Linked DNA regions of Homo sapiens: region 2 is linked to region 1. The links come from fine-mapping of genetic effects on gene expression. Tissue or cell type: whole blood. Region 1 holds a variant in brackets; the other region holds the start of a gene. All regions are shown on one strand. Distances are between the middles of the regions.

What was found. PIP is the estimated chance that this variant, and not a neighbour inherited with it, causes the effect.
Region 2: AQP11 starts here. The variant in region 1 is fine-mapped to the expression of AQP11 in whole blood (INTERVAL, PIP 0.92).

What each region holds. Positions count from the first base shown.
Region 1 is chr11:77,559,383-77,569,521 of GRCh38, forward strand. It overlaps the pseudogene RNU7-59P. Among named protein-coding and RNA genes, the nearest start is that of LINC03030, 6.6 kb to the right of the region's middle. RefSeq lists enhancers at 511-1,710, 742-1,036. The variant C/T (reference allele first, on the strand shown) is at 4,572.
Region 2 is chr11:77,585,175-77,595,313 of GRCh38, forward strand. It overlaps AQP11 (aquaporin 11), which reads left to right and starts at 4,779. Exons shown (of 3, transcript NM_173039.3): 1 at 4,779-5,437. The coding sequence starts at 4,819. RefSeq lists silencers at 4,126-4,755, 9,037-9,237.

The DNA.
Region 1 (10,139 bases):
CTCATGATCCGCCCGCCTCGGCCTCCCAAAGTGGATTACAGGTGTGAGCCACTGTGCCCAGCAAGTAGGCATTTTAAATGACATCCATGTGAGTCTGAGGCAGTGGTCTGTGGCTCCTTTTGAAAAACACTGCTGTAGGGGAACAGATAAGCCTAAGAATAAGTTTACTAGAACAGGGATGCCCTAACAGAGTTTCTTAATCTTGGCACTAATAGCATTTGGGACCAAATCAATTCTTTGTCCTGGGTGCTGTCCTGTGCACTGCAGGATGTTTCATAGGATCCCTGGCCTCTGCTTGCTAGATGCCAGTAGCAATGCCCGCTCCCACCTGCTGTGACAATCAAAACTGTCTACAGACAATGCCAAATGCCCCAAGGGGTGGTGGGGTGGAGGGGGGTGCAAACTTGCTGCCACCACCTTCCACAGAAAACTATTTCCCTGGAGTGTGCAAGGCCCTGGGCCAGTGTGTGTGGGTGTGTGTACGGGTGGGGGGAATGTTAATATTAACAATATGTTTTAAAATGTATTGCAAAACTCATGAGCTCATGTGAGCTATGGTGATTTACTGATGAAGATTTAGAATGAGTATAGAAGAGGTATTCAGGTATTTGTTGTCAAGTCAGTGCGCATGAAGATTCTTTGTAGTGTCCAGGTGCCGTGTCTTTCTGTTCTGGTTTGAGAACCACCTTTTTATGTTCTTTATTTTCAAATGCACCATTCCTTGCTGGTTTCATGGCTCCTACTCCTGAAGAAGGTAGCAATGCTGTTATTACTCACAATGCCATGACTGCTTGGAACCTGTTTGTATTGAAGCAATATAGACCTTTTGGCTTCTGCTGATCCTCAAAACCTTTAACTCATGACACTGAATCATCCACCATAAGCACGTGGCTCCAGTGGCTCTGTTATAAAGATTGTTATCATGCTTCATTGATGACTAACACAAATGCACGTCTTATCCAGAGTCTGAATGGAAATGATAACTACTTTTCTGGTAATGTTAAATTATCATTTCAGATTTTTTTTTTTTTTTGAGACAGAGTTTCACTCTTGTTGCCCAGGCTGGAGTGCGATGGTGCGATCTCGGCTCACTGCAACCTCTGCCTCCCAGGTTCAAGCAATTCTCCTGCCTCAACCTCCCGAGTAGCTGGGATTACAGGCATGCACCACCACGCCTGGCTAATTTTGTATTTTTAGTAGAGACAAGGTTTCTCCATGTTGGTCAGGCTTGTCTCGAACTCCTGACCTCAGGTGATCCCCCCGCCTGGGCCTCCCAAAGTTCTGGGATTACAGGCATGAGCCACCATGCCCAGCCTATCATTTCAGATTTTATGGCACAACCACATGACTCACCTTCCAACTATGTCTTCTCTTGAACTCATTAGGGTGTTATCATTGCATTTCCTTGAATGTAATCTTCCTCAGTATCAGTGGAACCCTTCCCTTTCATCAGCAGGCAGAATAGATGAGTGGCCCATCTGCACAAGAGTGCTCTGGATAGGAGGTGTCACAGTGTACACAGGCAAGAGTCAGTGGACAGGCCCACACATGCAGCCCAAGCCAAAAGGTCAGTAGTAGAGAAGGAGCAGAAATTCCAAGATATGTGAGGGGGAAGATCAACAAAGTGCTAAGGTATAGCAGCTCAGTGTCTGCTTGTGACAGTCAACCGAAATCTGCATCGGCACCATCCTAATGGTCCAACTTCACATGAGCCAGTAAAATAATATTGTGCTAGCCAGCAGGAGTGATCTGCCCCACAGGCTGTCCTTTTGGAAATGTGGCCTGGCCACTGGGCTCTGAGACCATTCCATAGGCACACGTTCTACAGCTCCTCAGGACATCTGTTTGACCCCATGCACTAGGAAGAAGGTTAGAGAGCACTTGAAGGGGAGAAACTGAGTTTAGAGCACCCCACCTGGAGAACACTACTAGCCCCAGCCTGTCCCAGTCAAAAGAGAGAAACTTAAAATTTCAAGGTGGGTACTCCACAGCGGGATGGAGGGTGACAGGGCCCTGTCTGCCCAGGGCCAAGGGTGGTAGTACTGCACTAGAGCAATGGTGAGTAAGTCAGTAGCTTCTTAAAGTGTTCTTTCATGGGAGGGCAAGGTTCACTTGGTGGAGCATTGGGACTTCAGTACTGGATTATTCCTGGGATGTTAATTATTAATGTTATATATGTTAGCTGGTGGTAAAACATGTAAGATAAAGCTAGAGAAATTATTTTTTTAATTTTTAATTTTTATGGGTACATAGTAAGTGTATACATTTATGGAGTGTATGGGATATTTTGATACAGGCATACAATGTGTAGTAACCACATCAGGATAAATTGGTATCCATCACCTCAAGCATTCATCCTTTCTTTGTGTTACAAACATTCCAACTGTACTCCCTCAGTTATTCTAAAATATACGACAAATTATTGCTGACTGCAGTCACCCTGTTGTGCTATCAAACACTAGATCTTATTCATTGTATCTAACTATATTTTTATATATGTTACCCATCCCCATTTCTCACCCACTGGCCTTCTCAGTCTCTGGTAACCATCACTCTACACTCTCTGTGAGTTCAATGGTTTTAACTTTTAGCTCCCACAAATGAGTAAGAACATGAGAAGTTTGTCTTTCTGTGCCTGGCTTATTTCACTTAATATAATGTCCTCCAGTTCCATCCATGTTGTTGCAAATGACAGGATCTCATTCTCTTTTATGGGTGAATAGTACTCCATTGTGTATATATACTACATTTTCTTTATCCATTCATCTGTTGATGGACATTGAGGTTGCTTCCAAATCTTGGCTATTGTGAATAGTGCTGCAGTAAACAAGGGAGTGCAGATATGTCTTCAACATACTGATTTCCTTTGAGTATATACCTAGCAATGGGATTCTTGGATCATATGGTAGCTCCATGTTTAGTTTTTTGAGGAAATTCTATACTGTTCTCCATAGGGGTTAAACTAATATGTACTCCCATCAACAGTGTATGAGGGTTCCCCTTTCTCCACATCTGTGCCAGTGTTTGTTATTGACTATCTTTTGGATAAAATCAATTTTAACTAGGGTGAGATGATATCTCATTGTAGTTTTCATTTGCATTTCACCTTTTTAAATACCTGTTTCCCATTTGTATGTTTTCTTTTGAGAAAAGTCTATTCAGATCTTTTATCCATTTTTTAATCAGATTATTATATCTTTCCCTTTGAGTTGTTTGAGCTCCTTATATATTCTGGTTATTCATATCGTGTCAGATGGATAGTTTGCAAATATCTTCTTTCATTCTGTGGGTTTCCTCTTTACTCTGTTGATTGTTTCCTTTGCTGTGTAGAAGCTTTTTAACTTGATGTGATCCCATTTGTCCATTTTTGTTTGGTAGCCTGTGTTTATGAGCTATTACTCAAGAAATCCTTACCCAATAGCTACAAATAAAAGACATATATGACAGACCCACAAAATACCCCTGGAAAGTTTCCCCAATGTTCTATTTTAGTAGTTTCATAGTTTCAGTTCTTAGATTTAAGTCTTTAATCCACTTCAATTTTATTTTTGTATATGGTGAGAGATAGGAGTCCAGTTTCATTCTTTTGCATATGGATATCCAGTTTTCCCACCATCATTAATTGAAGAGACTGTCCTTTCCCCAAGGTATGTTGTTGGCATCTTTGTCAAAAATGTTCACTGTAGTTATATGGATTTGTTTATGAGTTCTCTATTCTGTTTCACTGGTCTATGTGTCTGGTTTTATGCCAGCACCATACTGTTTTGGTTACTATTGCTCTGTAGTATAATTTGAAGTCAGGTAATGTGATGCCTCCAGTTTTGTACTTTTTGCTCAGGATGGATTTAGCTATTCTGGGTCTTTTGCAGTTCCATATATATTTTAGGATTACATTTCTGTGAAGAATGTCACTTATATTTTGATAGGGATTGCACTGAATCTGTAGAGTGCTTAGAGTAATATAGACATTTTAATAATATTGATTCTTCTAATTCATGAACAGGGAATATCTTTTCACTTTTTGGGTGTCCTCTTCAATTCTTGTATCAGTGTTTCATAGTTTTCATTGTAGAGATATTTCACTTATTTGGCTAAGTTTATTCCTTGATATTTTATTTGTAGCTATTATAAATAAGATTACTTTATTTCTTTTTCAGATTGTTCACTGTTGGAATATAGAAATGCTACTGATTTTTGTATGTTGATTTTGTGTTCTGCAACTTTACTGAATTTGTTTGTCAGTTCTAGTAGTTTTATGGTGGAGTCTTTAGGTTTTTCCAAATATAAGCTCTTATCATTTGCAAACAAGGACAATTTGACTTCTTTCTTTTCAATTTGGATGCTTTTTATTTCTTTCTCTAGTCTGATTGCTCAGTACTATGTTGAATAGCAGTGGTGAAAGGGGACTTCCTTGTCTTGTTCCAGAACTTAGAGAAAATGCTTTCAGTTTTTCCCCATTCAGTGTGATACCAGCTGTGGGTCTGTCATATATAGCTTTTATTGTGTTGAGGCATGTTCCTTCTACACCCAGTTTGCTGAGGATTTTTATCATGAAAGGATGTTGAATTTTA[C/T]CAAATGCTTTTTTGGCAGCAATTGAAATGATCACATGATTTTTGTCCCTCATTCTGTTGATATGATGTATTACATTGATTAAGTTGAACCATCTTTGTATCCCTGGGATGAATTCCACTTGGTCATGATAAATGATCTTATTAATGTGTTGTTAAATTCAGTTTGCCAATATTTTGTTAAGATTTTTGCATCAATGTTCACCAGAGATACTGGCCCTTAGTTTTCTTTTTTTGATGTGTCTTTGTGTGGTTTTGGTATCAGGGTAATACTTGTCTTATAGAATGAGTTTGGAAAAGTATTCCTGCCTCCTCTATTTTTTGGAATAACTTAAGTTGGACTGTTATTAGTTTTTCTTTAAATGTTTGGTAGAATTCAGCAGCGAAGCCATTGGGCTCTGAGCATTACTTTGCTGGGAGACTTTTATTACACCTTTAATCCCATTATTTGTTACTGGTCTAGTCAGGATTTGTATTTCTTCATGGTTCGATCTTGGTAAGTTGTAGGTGTCTAGGAATTTATCCATTTCTTCTAGGTTTTTCCAATTTATTGGCATACAGTTGTTCATAGTAGTCTATAACGAAGTTTGAATTTCTGTGGTATCAGTTGTAATGTCTTCCTTTTCATCTCTGATTTTATTCATTTGGAACTTCTTTTTTTCTTAGTCTGGCTAAAGGTTTGTCACTTTTGTTTATCATTTCAAAAATGCAACTTTTCGGCCAGGCGCAGTGGCTCACGCCTGTAATCCCAGCACTTTGGGAGGCCAAGGTGGGTGGATTATGAGGTCAGGAGTTCAAAACCAGCCTGACCAATATGGTGAAACCCTGTGTCTACTAAAAGTACAAAAAAAAAGAAAAAGAAAAATTAGCCAGGCGTGGTGGCAGGTGCCTGTAATCTTAGCTACTCGGGAGGCTGAGGTAGGAGAATTGCTTGAACCCAAGAGGCAGAGGTTGCAATAAGCCGAGATCGCACCACTACACTCCAGCCTGGGCAACAGTGCAAGACTCAGTCTCAAAAAAAAAAAAAAAGCAGCTTTTCATTTTGTTGATCTTTTGTATTGTTTTCTTCATTTCAAATGCATTTATTTCTGCTCTGATCTTTATTATTTCTTTTCTTCTAATTTTGGGTTTGATTTACTCTTGCTTTTCTAGCTCGCTGTCTCTCTCTCTCTCTCTCTTTCCCTCTCTCTCTCTTTTGTATTTTCTATATAGATGGGGTTTTGACATGTTGCCCAGGCTGGTCTTGAACTCCTGGGCTCAAGCAATCTGCCCACTTCAACCTCCCAAAGTGCGGGCCACAGGTGTGAGCCACCAAGCTGGCCTTCTAGGTCTTTAAGATGCATCATTAGGATGTTTGTTTGATGTTTTTTTTTTAAATGTAGGTGCTTATTGTTATAAACTTTCCTCTTCATACTGCTTTTGTTGTATCCCATAGGTTTTGGCATGTTGTGTTTCCATTTTCATTTGTTGCAAGACATTTTAAAAATTCTTTTTTAATTTCTTCATTGACCCATGATCACTCAGGAGCATATTGTTTAATTTCCATATGTTTGTATAGTTTTCAAAAATCCTTTTATTATTGATTTTTGGCTGTATTCCATTGTAGTAAGAGAAGATACCTGATATAATTTATTTTTTTTCAATTATTTTTCAATTTTTTCTTTTTCTTTTTTTTTTTTTTGAGATGGAGTTTCACTCTTGTTGTCCAGGCTGGAGTGCAATGGTGCGATCTCGGCTCACCACAACCTCCGTCTCCTGGGTTCAAGCGCTTATCCTGACTCAGCCTTCCAAGTAGCTGGGATTACTGGCATGCGCCTACACACCCAGCTCATTTTATTTGTATTTTTAGTAGAGTCAGGGTTTCTCCATGTTGGTCAGGCTGGTCTCGAATTCCCAACTTCAGGTGATCTGCCCGCCTCGGCCTCCCAGAGTGCTGGGAATACAGGCGTGAGCCACCAAGTCTGGCTTTTTTTTTCAATTTTTAAAGTCTTATTTTGTGGTCTAACATATAGTCTATCCTCAAAAGTGATGTAAGTGCTGAGGAGAAGAATGCGTATTCTGTAGCTGTTGGATGAAATGTTCTGTAAATATCTATTAGGTCCATTTGGTCTATAGTGCAAACGAAGTCTGATGTTTCTTTTTTGATTTTCTGTCTGGATGATCTGTCCAATGTTGCAAATGTGGTGTAGAAGGCTCCAGCTATTATTGCATTGGGGTCTCTCTCTCTCTTTAGCTCTAATAATATGTGCTTTATATGTCTGGGTGCTCCTGTGTTGAGTGCATATATTTTTATAACTGTTATTATCTTGCTAAATTGACCCCTTTATCATTTTACAATAATATTCTTTGTCTTTTTAAAATAGGTTTTGTCCTGAAATGTATTTTGTCTTAAAAAAATATAGCTACTCCTGCCCTTTCTTTTTCCATCCATTTATTTTCAGTGTTTATGTGTCTTCATAGGAGAAGTATATTTCTTGCAGGCAGTAGATCATTGGGTCTTGTTTTTTTAATCCATTCAGCCACTCTGTGTCTTTTGATTGAAGTTTAGTCCATTTATATTCAATGTTATTATTGATAAGAACTTATTACTGCCTTTTATTTGTTTTCTGGTTGTTTTGTAGTCTTCACCTCCTTCTTTCCTTTCTTCCTGTCTTCCTTGTAGTGAAGGTGATTTTCTCTGGTGGTATGTTTTAAATTCTTGCTTTTTATTTTTCATGTATCTGTTGTATGTTTTTCAATTTGAGGTTACCATACAGCTTGCAGATAATATCTTACAACCCATATTTTAAGCTGATGACAACTTAACACTGGTTGCATAAACAAATGAACAAACATGCAATAAGAAAACTTATAAAAACTCTACATTTTAACTTCATCTGCTTGCTTTTTACCTTTTTGCTTTTTCTATTTATATCTTATTATATTGTCTGTATCTTGGAAAGTTGTTGTACTTCTTATTTTTGACAGGTTCATTTTTTGCGAGGGAGGCTTCCAGTGAAAACAAGAAAGCCTGCTGGACAAATTCTAAAAAAGCTGTAACACTGACAGGTTCGTCTTTTAGTCTTTCTACTGCAGATACGAGCAGTTTACATACCAAAATTACAGTGTTATAATATTCTGTGCTTTTCTGTGTACTTACTATTACCAGTGAGTTTTATATCTTCAGATGACTTCTTATTGCTCATTAGCATTCTTTTCTTTCAGATTGAAGAACTCTCGTTTGCATTTCTGGTAGGACAGGTCTGGTGTTGATGAACTCCCTCAGCTTTTGTTTGTCTGGGGAATTCGTTGTTTCTCCTTTATGTTTGAAGGATATTTTCACTGGATATACTATTCTAGTATTAAAGTTTTTTTCCTTCAGCACTGTAAATTTGTCCCACCACTCTCTCCTGGCCTTTAAGATTTCCACTGAAAAGTCTGCTCCTGGGCATATTAGAGCTCCATTGTATGTAATTTGTTTCTTTTCCCCTTGCTGCTTTTAGGGTCCTTTCTTTACCCTTGACCTTTGGGAGTTTGGTTATTAAGTGTCTCAAGGTACTTTTATTTGGGCTAAATCTGCTTGGTGTTCTACAACCTTCTTGTACTTAAATATTGATATCCTTTTCTAGGTTTGGAAAACTATCTGTTACCTCTTTATATAAACTTTCTACCCAGATCTATAAGGCCAATAACTCTTAGATTTCCCCCTTTGAGGCTATTTTCTAGATCTTGCAGTCATGCTTCCTTCTTCTTAATTCTTTTTTGTCTCCTCTGGCTGTGTATTTTCAAACAGCCTGTCTTGAAACTCACTAATTCTTTCTTCTGCTTGATCAGTTTTGCTAAGAGACAGCCGGGACTGGTGGCTGGTGCTTTATTTAGATCATTCGGTGAGGTCATGTTTTCCAGGATGGTCTTGATGCTTGTGGATGTTCATCGGTGTCTGGGCATTGAAGAATTAGGTATTTATTATAGTCTTCACAGTCTGGGCTTGTTTGTACCTGTCCTTCTTGGGAAGGATTTCCAGCCATTCGAAGGGACTTGGATGCTGTGATTTAAGTTTTTTATCACTGCAGCCGTATCTGCACTAGGGGAAACCCCAAGTCCAGTAATGTTGTGGCTCTTGCAGACTCAGAAGTAGTGCCTTAGTGGTCTTGGGTAAGATTTAGGAGAATTCCCTGGATTACCAGGTAGAGACTCTTGTTCTCATCCTTTACTTTCCCCCACAAATGAAGTCTCTCTCTCTCTGTACTGAACTTCCTGGAGCTGGGAGAGGGGTGACATAAGTTCCCCTGTGGTCACCACCACTGGGACTGTCCTGGGTCAGACCTGAAACAAACATAGCACTGGGTTTCACCCAAGGTCCACAGTGACCGTTGCTTGACTACCACTTAGGTTCACTCAAGACCCAAGAGATCTACAATCAGCAGGTGGCAAATACAGCAGGCTTGTGTCCTTCCTTTTAGGGTGGTAAGGTCCCCCTGGCCCTGGGTGTGTCCAAAGATGCCACTGGGAGCCAGAGTCTGGAGCCAGGAACCTTAGAAATCTTATCTACTGCTGCTGAGCTGGCATCCAAGCCACAAAACAAAGTCCTTCCCCCTCTTCCCTCCCCTTTCCACAAACAGGAGTCTCTCTTCATGGCTACTGCTGCCCTGAGCCCGTGGCAAGTACTGCCAGGCTACCACCAATGTTCACTCAACGTCCAAGGGCTCTTCAATCAGCTTGCGGTGAATGCTGTGAGGCCCGGGACTCACCCTTCAGGGAAAAGGACTCCCCTCTGGCCCAGGGCAGGTCCAGAAATGCCATCCATGAGCCAAGACCTGGAACTGGGGACACCAAGAGCCTGCTTGGTGCTCTATCCCACTGTGGCTGAGCTGGTACCCAAGCTATAAGACAAAATGCCCTTTACTCCTCCGTCTTCTTTCTTCAAGTAGCCACCACAGCTAGGAATGTGCTGGGTCACATCTAAAGGCAACACAGCTCTGAGTTTTACCCAAGGCCCAGGAGGAATAATGCCTGGTTACCACCGCTGATTATTCCTTCCCTTTAAGGCAGTTGGTTCCCTTCTGGCCCAGGGTGTGTCTTGAAATGTCATGTGATGGCTAGACCCTGGAATGGGGTCCTCAGGACTCTGTCTGGTGCCCTATCCTGCTGTGGCTGAGCAGGTATCCAAGCTGCAAGACAAAGTCCTCTTTACTCTCCCTTCTCTCCTCAGGTAGAGGGAAGGAGTCTCTCCCAGAGCTGTGAACTGCACTGCCTGAGGTTGGGAGAGGGATGATGCAAGCACTGCCTTGGCCTCCCTGGCTCCATGTACATGTTACATGTACCTGAGTACGAGTACCCTGGCTCCAAGCCCAGCACAGCACCAGGACTTGCCCAGCAATTGCAATCCTTAGGGCCTAGACTGCCTTTCAAGTTTACTTAGGACCCCAGAGCCCTTTACCAAATGGTGGTGGCTTGCCAGAGGTCAAGTTCTGACCACTGGGATGGGTAATATGCCTCTGGCTAGGGCTGATGCAAATGCTCCCTCCTTGGCCTCCAGCTGAGTTCTGCCTTGTGTTGTTTTCTGCTGTGACAGGGCAGCACTGAGCTCTA
Region 2 (10,139 bases), 26 kb after region 1:
ATCTTATGCCCCCAAAAATCAATACGCTAAAGGGAAAAGTCAAGCTGGAAACTGCTTAGGGCAAATCTGCCTCCCATTCTATTCAAAGTCACCCCTCTGCTCACTGAGATAAAAACATATCTGACTGCCTCTTTTGAGGAGGCTAATCAGAAACTTAAAACAATGCAACCATTTTTTTCTTACGTACCTATGACCTGGAAGCCCCCTTCCTGCTTCAAGATGTCATGCCTTTCCAGACTGAACCAACGTTCTTCTTACATATATTGATTGATGTCTCATGACTTCCTAAAATGTATAAAACCAAATTGTGCTGTGACCACCTCAGGTAAATGTCATCAGGACCTTCTGAGGCTGTGTCATAGGCACGCATCCTCAACCTTGGCGAAATAAACTTTCTAAATTAACTGAGACATGTCTCAGATTTTTGGAGTACACATCTGATAAAACACAATGAGAAAAATATGGCATCACTTCTGTGATATTCCTGCTAAAGATGCATACCCTGTAAGGCTGCATTGAGCCGCGATCACGCCCCTGTACTCCAGCCTGGGCAACACAGTGAGACTCTGTCTCAAAAAAAGAAAAAAAAAAAGACACTTAACCTGAAACTAGTATCTAGGAAACATTAGGCAAACCCAAATTCAAGGAGATTTTACAAAATAACTGATCTGTAACCTCAAAATTGTCCAGGTGATGAAAGTCAAGGAAGAGCTGAGGAACTTTTCTAGATTGAAGGAAACTCATGAGACATGACACTAAATGCAATGTGCAATTCTGAATTGGATCCTTTTGCTAAGAAGTACAATGTTGCGACAACTGGCAAAACTTGAATGGGATCTGAGGAGTAGATGGTAGTAACAATGTTAATTTCCTGATTTTGATAGTCTTATTATGGCTATGTAGGACACAGATGTTTAAGAAAATACACCCTAAAATGTTCTGAGTAATTGGGCATAATATTAACAATTAATTTTCAAATGGTTCAGGAAAAAAAAATTTTGTACTATACTTGCAACTTTTCTGAAAGCCTGAGATTATTTCAAAATAAAATACTTTTAAAATGCAATTACTTAAATTCTTCCCATGTTTCTTCCCACGTAAACGTCAAGCCAAAGGACATGGCTTCAGAAGCTCTTTTTTTTTTTTTTTGAGATGGAGTCTCACCATGTTGCCCAGGCTGGAGTTTAGTGGTATAATCTTGGCTCGCTGCAACCTCCACCTCCCGGGTTCAAGCTATTCTCTTGCCTCAGCCTCCTGAGTAGCTGGGACTACAGGCATGTGCCAACACGCCTGGCTAATTTTTGTATTTTTAGTAGAGACAGGGTTTCACCATGTTGGCCAGGCTGGTCTCAAACTCCTGACCTCAGGTGATCCACCCACCTCGGCCTCCCAAAGTGCTGGGATTACAGGCGTGAGCCACCGCGCCTGGTGCAGAAGCTCTTAAATGCTTTATCTCCTCGCAGATGTTAACGAAATGCAATTCTGAATTTTGGCAGGGGTTTTTTTTTTTCTTCATTTCGCTTTGTCTTGTCTGAAGCTTCAGGGCAAAATCCATGATTATTGAACTATCGTCTATTTTACCTCCATTTTTATATATTAAACCTTATTAAGCACTACTATGTGCTGGGCCATGTACTAAATCTTTTTCAGGCATTATTTCTTTTAACCTTGATCTCTTGCTACTTCCCCCTTCATACTCCAGCCTAGAGCACGGGGACTCCTCTAGGCTTTCTCTGTTTGCAAAATGCAGTGCCTCTGCCTCTCTTCTTTCTCCCTCTTCTCTTTACCCCTTAACTCCTATTTATTCTTCAGGTTTCAGCTAGGATGACACTTCCTCCAAGGAGCCTTTCCTTAAGTCTGAGTGGGGGCCCCTCCCTGTGCCCAGGCCTTTCTTCTTTTACCATTGTACTTTTACACTATATTTTAATTTTGTTTTCTCTTCTGTTCCCTCTTCTATGCTATTCAAGAGCAAGGACTGTTTTTACTGCTGTTTTACCAAAGCTAACAGAGGTCTTCGTCCATGATGTCACTCTCAAGAGACTTTAATTGGTGATTTCTTGTTTCTGAAAATAGGAAGGTTGATTTGATGCAAAATATCCAATCAGTAGTAATTAATTATGTTAATTTTGCCCTTGTTCTTTAATTTAAAAAATGTCCAAAGTCCTTTTAATGACAATATGTATTACCACGATACTAAAATTTCTTACCAAAGTCCAAAACACTGGTTTTCTACATGACTCTTCCGGGTAAAAGTGAATTATCAGCAGAGCAGTAAATAAAATACATTCACATTAATCCTCAAGTGACTTCAAGTCTAGGGGAGCACTGAAAGGGTTACATTCATAGGATTGATTTAAAGGCAACTTCTTTAAACAGCAGTGACTTAAAAGTAATTCTAATTGCCGGGCGCGGTGGCTCACGCCTGTAATCCCAGCACTTTGGGAGGCCGAGGCGGGCAGATCACAAGGTCAGGAGATCAAGATCATCCTGGCTAACACAGTGAAACGCCATCTCTGCTAAAAAATACAAAAAAAAAAAAAAAAAAAAAAAAAAAAAAAAAAAAAAAGCCAGGTGTGGTGGCAGGCGCCTGTAGTCCCAGCTACTCGGGAGGCTGAGGCAGGAGAATGGCGTGAACCCGGGAGCAGAAGTTGCAGTGAGCTGAGATCACGCCATTACACTCCAGTCTGGGAGACAGAGCGAGACTCTGTCTTAAAAAAATAATAATAATAAATAATTCTAATTTAAATTCTTTCTGGCCAGGCAATCAACACAGGAAAGAGAAAAGGTCTTGATTTTCTACTAGTTTGTGTCTTGTGAAAGAATTTTTTTTTTTTTTAGACGAAGTCTCACTCTGTTGCTCAAACTGGAGTGCAGTGGCACTGTCTTGGCTCACTGCAACCTCCACCTCCCGGGTTCAAGGGATTCTCTTGCCTCAGCCTCCCGAGTAGCTGGGACTACATGTGCGCACCACCATGCCCAGCTAATTTTTGTATTTCTAGTAGAGACGGGGTTTCACTATGTTGGCCAGGCTGGTCTTGAACTCCTGACCTCGTTATCCGCCTGCCTCGGACTCCCAAAGTGCTGCACCTACAATGGGCCACCCCAGGGGACAAGCTGTTGGGACTGGAATGCGGTGGCAAGAGCCGTGCACTCTGGCTGCTGAAACCTGCTGTTTCCACTGTAAGCTACCACTTAGTGAATATTTTCTACGTATTGGGAACTGTACTAAGTGGCTTTCATGTTTTGTTTTTTGTTTGTTTGACTGGTTTGTTGTTGTTGTTGTTGTTGTTGTTGTTGTTTTTGAGACGGAGTTTCGCTCTTGTTGCCCAGGCTGGAGTACAATGGCGCGATCTAGGCTCACCACAACCTCTGCCTCCCGGGTTCAAGCGATTCTCCTGCATCATCCTCCCGAGTAGCTGGGATGACAGGCATGCGCCACCATGCCCGGCTAATTTTGTATTTTTAGTAGAGACGGGGGTTTCTCATGTTGGTCAGGCTAGTCTCGAACTCCCGACCTCCGGTGATCCGCCCGCCTCGGCCTCCCAAAGTGCTGGGATTATAGGCGTGAGCCACCGCGCCCAGCCGCGCCCGGTTTTTGTTGTTGTTTTTGTTTCTAAAAACAGCGTCTCGCTCTGTGGCCCAGGCAGGGGTGCAGTGGCGCGATCTCAGCTCACTGCAGCCTGGAACTCCTGGGGTCAAGCGGTCTTCCCACCTAAGCCTCTCCGTGCTGGGACTCCGGACGCGCTCCACCTCACGCAGCCGTATTCCTGCTTTCAAAGCAGATGGAAGAGGTGCGCCAGGACCCCCAGTTCTTGGAAACAGACCTCTCCAGTTACCTGTTGTTTCCTCTTCACGAAGAGTGCATGTAACAGTAAGACACAACTGTTTCATATTATACGTAAAGAGTTCATGCCAAAGGTTATAGACAGTCACATGCTAAAACTAGGCTACACTTTGAAGAATCACCGCTCAAGTTCTGGAAAAAAGAGGTGACTGTTGAACAACACTGTGAGGGTAATCGATGCCACTGAAATATACACTTAAATTGATTAAAGTGGCGAATTTTATCTGGCATATATTACCACCATTTTTAGAAATGTTTTTTGGCAGGTGAAGAAAAGCAAGGCTCCAGGAGGCCCTGCGCACCGGTCTACGCCCACTAACTCACCCGCCCCCTGCGCCGCGTCTCCCCTCTCAATTTCAGTCGCCCATTGATAAAAACGAGGTGGCTATGTGAGATGGCCTTCAGCGGTCTTTCCAGCTCCACGGTTTTACAGTGTGGAGCGGGGAAAGAAAAACTCTAAGGTCCTCGCTGCAAAGCAACCATCAGAGCTCCGCCGCGCCGTGCCGCTCCTCTCCGCCCCGTGGTCCGGGTGTCACCGCCCGCAGGGGCGCAAGGGCCGCAGCACGCGTGCGCAGTGGGCACCAAGAGCGCTGCGTCGACCGCGCCGCGCCGGCCCTCCGCCGCCGCGCCCGCCTACAAGGCCCTGAGGGAGACTGCGGAGGGTGAGTGCGCGGTGGGCTCGGCTGACCGTTGGCCCTGCGGCCGGCGCCCTAGGCTACCTCCCTTCGCCTCCCCGCGCCTCCCCGCGCCTCCCCGCCTCCCCGCCTCCCCGCCTCCTCGGCTCTGGTTCCAACACCCCAGCGCCAAGCCGGGGAGGCGGGGAGGACTTCTTAAGTGTGCCGCTCGGGAGCCTCCCGCTCGTCCCGCCCCGAGGGGCGTGAGGAGGGGAGGGGCTGCGGACTTCGGACTCGGGCCTGGAGACCGCCTCCTACCCAGAGCCGGAGCCCGCAACCCGCTCAGGCGGCGACGGAGCCATGTCGCCGCTGCTGGGGCTCCGGTCCGAGCTGCAGGACACCTGCACCTCGCTGGGACTGATGCTGTCGGTGGTGCTGCTCATGGGGCTGGCCCGCGTAGTCGCCCGGCAGCAGCTGCACAGGCCGGTGGCCCACGCCTTCGTCCTGGAGTTTCTAGCCACCTTCCAGCTCTGCTGCTGCACCCACGAGCTGCAACTGCTGAGCGAACAGCACCCCGCGCACCCCACCTGGACGCTGACGCTCGTCTACTTCTTCTCGCTTGTGCATGGCCTGACTCTGGTGGGCACGTCCAGCAACCCGTGCGGCGTGATGATGCAGATGATGCTGGGGGGCATGTCCCCCGAGACGGGTGCGGTGAGGCTATTGGCTCAGCTGGTTAGTGCCCTGTGCAGCAGGTACTGCACAAGCGCCTTGTGGAGCTTGGGTCTGACCCAGTATCACGTCAGCGAGAGGAGCTTCGCTTGCAAGAATCCCATCCGAGTCGACTTGCTCAAAGCGGTCATCACAGAGGCCGTCTGCTCCTTTCTCTTCCACAGCGCTCTGCTGCACTTCCAGGAAGTCCGAACCAAGCTTCGTATCCACCTGCTGGCTGCACTCATCACCTTTTTGGTCTATGCAGGTTTGTCATTCTCACCAAATACTTGGCACTTCCAGAGCCTCTATGACATGAGGCTGTAAGTTCTTTACTAAAATACATTTGAAACCGTCTATCCCGCTATGATGTAAATGCTGGTATCCCCGTTATTCTAACCATTTTGCAGCCCGTTCTTAACCAGTAGGGCCGACACGTAGAGCCTTCATGCAGTGCTGCTTTGAACACCCAGAGAAAGGAGCCACCTCTGTGCTGAAACTGAGATACTGTGAGATATTGCCAAGGGTTCAGATATCCTACAAAGGGATTGTTTTAATGGTAGAAAGGAAAGATAACTTATTAACTGCCTCTTTCTTCATGCCAAGGTGGTATAGATCGTTTCGGATACTCTTACTGAAAAATGATCCTGGCTTTACAAAGTTCCTTTCGATTTAAAGCACAAGGCACATGATTGGTTAGTATAAGAGCGGAGGGTAGAAATTTTGTAGTTCCATTTTAGTCCTATAAATGATTTAAAGTCATTTCTTATTTCCTTAATAATTCATTTTGAGTTATGAAATTTCTTATTTCCTTAATAATTCATTTTGAGTTATACATGAACTTTTAAGTGACCTATTAAGAAAAATGTTTAAATGATAACTTGCTTCAAATTAAAGATGCTTTTTAAAATATAACTCTTGAGAAATCTGTTGATTTCTTTTAAACCATTTGTTTACTTTGACAGATCTCAGATGCAGTGGGCAATCTAGTCCTAAGTGGGAGGAGGAAATCCAAAACACAAGTATTTAATGATGAAATGTGTCATTTTAAATGATTACAACAGAATATCTTTATTGGGACTACATCTAAATTATAAAAGACTGTGGAGGCAGAAATAACAACAAAGGAAATTTGTGGTAATAATCTTCTGCCCATTAAAAGTGAAACAATGACTAGAAGCAAACTTCAAGATAAGGACTCCTAAACACGTACTTGACCTTCTAGGGTAAAAATGAAAGCCTTCAGCCGGGCGCGGTGGCTCACGCCTGTAATCCCAGCACTTTGGGAGACCGAGGTGGGTGGATCACCTGAGGTCAGGAGTTTGAGACCAGCCTCGCCAACATGGTGAAACCCCGTCTCTACTAAAAATACAAAAAAAATTTAGCCAGGCATGGTGGTGGGCGCCTGTAATCTCAGCTACTCGGGAATCTGAGGCGGGAGAATTGCTGGAACCCGGGAGGCGGAGGTTGCAGTGAGCTGAGATCGCGCCATTTTACTCCAGCCCAGGCGACAACAGTGAGACTCTGTCTCAAAAAAAAGAAAGAAAGCAAGCCTTCCCAATCAATTTCCCCTTCTTTAGGTCTAGTACCACTTTTTAAGTAGACATAAATGGAAATAAGTGGTATAGAAGAGTGAAGGGGGCCGGGCACGGTGGCTCACACCTGTCATCCCAACACTTTGGGAGGCCAAGGCAGGTGGATCGCTTGAGCCCAGGCGTTCGAGACTAGCCTGGGCAACATAAGAGAAATCCCATCTCTCCAAAAAATACAAAAATTAGCCGGGCGTGCTGGTGCGCACTTGTAGTCCCAACTACTTGGGAGGCTAAGGTGGGAGGATCACCCAAGTCCAGGAGGTTGAGATTGTGGTGAGCTGTGATAGTGCCACTGCACTCCAGCCTGGGTTATAGAGACCCTGTCTGTCTCAAAAGAAAAAAAAAAAGAAAAAGAGAAAAAGAGTGACAAGTACAGGCATATTTGAGGGATTGGTGGGTAGTTGCTTATTTATTGAAGTTTTAGATTTTAGCTAAAGCAGAAACATCCCCTGTATATGAACAGAATTGTCACTGCAAAAAGAGTTATGCTATGGTTTAGCTCTTTATTTCTACAATTAAAAGCAGTAAAAACTTAAAAAAGAATTTTTACATCAATAGAACATTAACTACAGTTGGATTTTTCAATACCTATGTTCCTCTTCCCTCTCTTGATTAACCTGAAGTTGATATTCTTTCTGTCTACTTTTAATACATATTTATGATTCCATAGATAATACTGTATATATTAGCCATTCCCTATTTTATCAGTGACAAAAAATTTGAGAGAAGAGACACAGATAATACTTGGAGTTATAGATCCAGTCATAGATATAAGGAAAGTTATTAGAAGTATCTATAAAATATCAACAGATCAAAAACACTGCCCTTTTTTTCTTGAAATGAGGGTACTAATTGATGGGGGAGAGGGAGAGTATAAAGGGAACACTAGAGCAGTGTTTCTCTCTGTATTAAAATCACCTGGGGAGCTCTTTAAACGTCCTTGTTCTGGGCCCACAGATTAAAATCCAATTGCTCTGGCAAGGGGCCTAGGCAGCGGTGTATTGTAAAGCTTCACAGGTGATCCCATTATGAAACCAAGGTAAAGAAGCACTGCTTTAGGAGTCTAGACCTGCACTGTGCAATTCAGTAGCCACTAGCTGCATGTGGCTGTTTACACTTAAATTAACTGAAATTAGATTCAGAGTAGCCACATTTCAAGTGGTCAGTTGTCAAATTGTGCTGTAGCTAGTGGGTACAGGATTGGACAGTGCTAGAGTCTGTTTGCATGGGTAGAACAAAATAGACAATTGTTGATTACTATTAGTTACAGAAATTTATAATGCAGTATGATCTTCCCTTTGTTTGTTTTCTGCCAATATAAGGGAGATAAGAATATTCAGTTGTCAGCTGTTATAGGCCAAGCATTTTGCAAGGAAATTTATGAGAGTTATCTTAATTAATTCTTACAACAACCCATCGGCCGGGCGCGGTGGCTCACGCCTGTAATCCCAGCACTTTGGGAGGCCGAGGCGGGCAGATCACGAGGTCAGGTGATCGAGACTATCCTGGCTAACACGGTGAAACCCCGTCTCTACTAAAAAATACAAAAAAATTAGCCAGGCATGGTGGCGGGTGCCTGTAGTCCCAGCTACTGGGGAGGCTGAGGCAGGAGAATGGCATGAACCCGGGAGGCAGAGCTTGCAGTGAGCCGAGATCGAGTCATTGCACTCCAGCCTGGGAGACAGAGCGAGAGAGCGAGACTCCGTCTCAAAAAAAAACAAAAACAAAAAAAAACAACCCATCGATGAATATATTCTTCCCATTTTAAGTAAAGTAAGTGAGGCCCAGAAAAGTGAAATGACTTATCTAAGCTTACATAACTAGACTGTGTTAGAACTATGGTTCCAACTGGCACTAAAGCTCATACGGATTCATTATCAGCATTTCCACAGTGTGCTCCTCAAAAGTTAACAAAACTATACACAATTGAATATATTCAGCCATAAAAAGGAATGAAGTTATGATGTATACTACAACATGAATGAACCTCAAAAACAATATGCCAAGCAAAATAAGCCAGACACAAAAAGACAAATACTGTATGGCTCTACATATACAAAATATCTAGATTAGGCAACTTCATAGAGACAGAAAGTAGAATAGAGTTACCAGGGACTGTGGGGAGGAGGGAGGAATGGGGACTTATTGTTTAATGGGTACAAAGTTTCTGTTTATGTTATGAAAACCTTTGGAAATGGTGCTGCTGGTGAAACAGCATGGTGAATGTAACACCAATGACTTATACACTTAAAAATGGCTAAAATGGCATACTTTATGGTATATATATATTTCACCATAATTTATACAATTTTTAAGTTACAAAATGATGTTGTTGCCAAATAAATTTGGCAGACACTGGATTAAACAGGTTTTCTAATTTTAAGACTTCATAGAGCCTTTACTATGCTTCTAAGTATTGTGAAACTCCAAGAGGAGGATTTGGAGCACAGTTTTTCAAACTTACGAGATCCTCTTGTCTAGGAGTGTGTAGCAGAAGAGAACATACTTTGGGAAATGCTGCACTAAGTCCCATCTCTCCCTTTTATTTTCTATGGCTATAAGTCATAACTTTGGAACAGAGTTGTTACAAATAGGACTGTCTTGGGACAGTTGGCTAAGTCAGGCATCATTACAAGTTATTATGATATGTCTTTTTTAAGCTTCTAGGATACTACAAGTACAGATTTGACAAAGGTGCACCTTGGGAGATTTCTTTAATCACTTGCATTTTGAGGGCACTGAGAAGTCACCAATACAGGGTACATCAAAATAACTTATGTATTTTAGGATTACAGAACATAAGCATCCAGCAACATAGCCACAGGCTCCTAAGGATAGCCAGTGACCAAGTGTCTGTGTATTTATTGATTTAGCACCCCAAATTTTGATGGCACATGGAGCCCCAGTTATGTCATTGCCATTTATCGTGTATTAACTGGCTCCCCTAATCGTGTAAAAAAAAAAAAAGCTGTGCGATTTATTAACATATTAGAGCTATAAACTGTTAATCAGATTTCAAGCAAATCTTCCTTACTTTGGGTTCTGGAAGAATTTAGTTCAATGAACAGTTTGAGAGAGAGCTGCATTCATTTTTTATGCATAATTAGATATTGAAAAACACCTGGGCCGGGTGTGGTGGCTCACGCCTGTAATCTCAGCACTTTGGGAGGCCGAAGTGGGTGGATCACCTGAGGTCAGGAGTTTGAGACCAGCCTGACCAACATGGAGAAACCCCACCTCTACTAAAAATACAAAATTAGCTGGGCATGCTTGCGCATGCCTGTAATCCCAGCTACTCAGGAGGCAGAGACAGGAGAATCGCTTGAACCTGGGAGGCAGAGGTTGCAGTGAGCTGAGGTCGTGCCATTGCACTCCAGC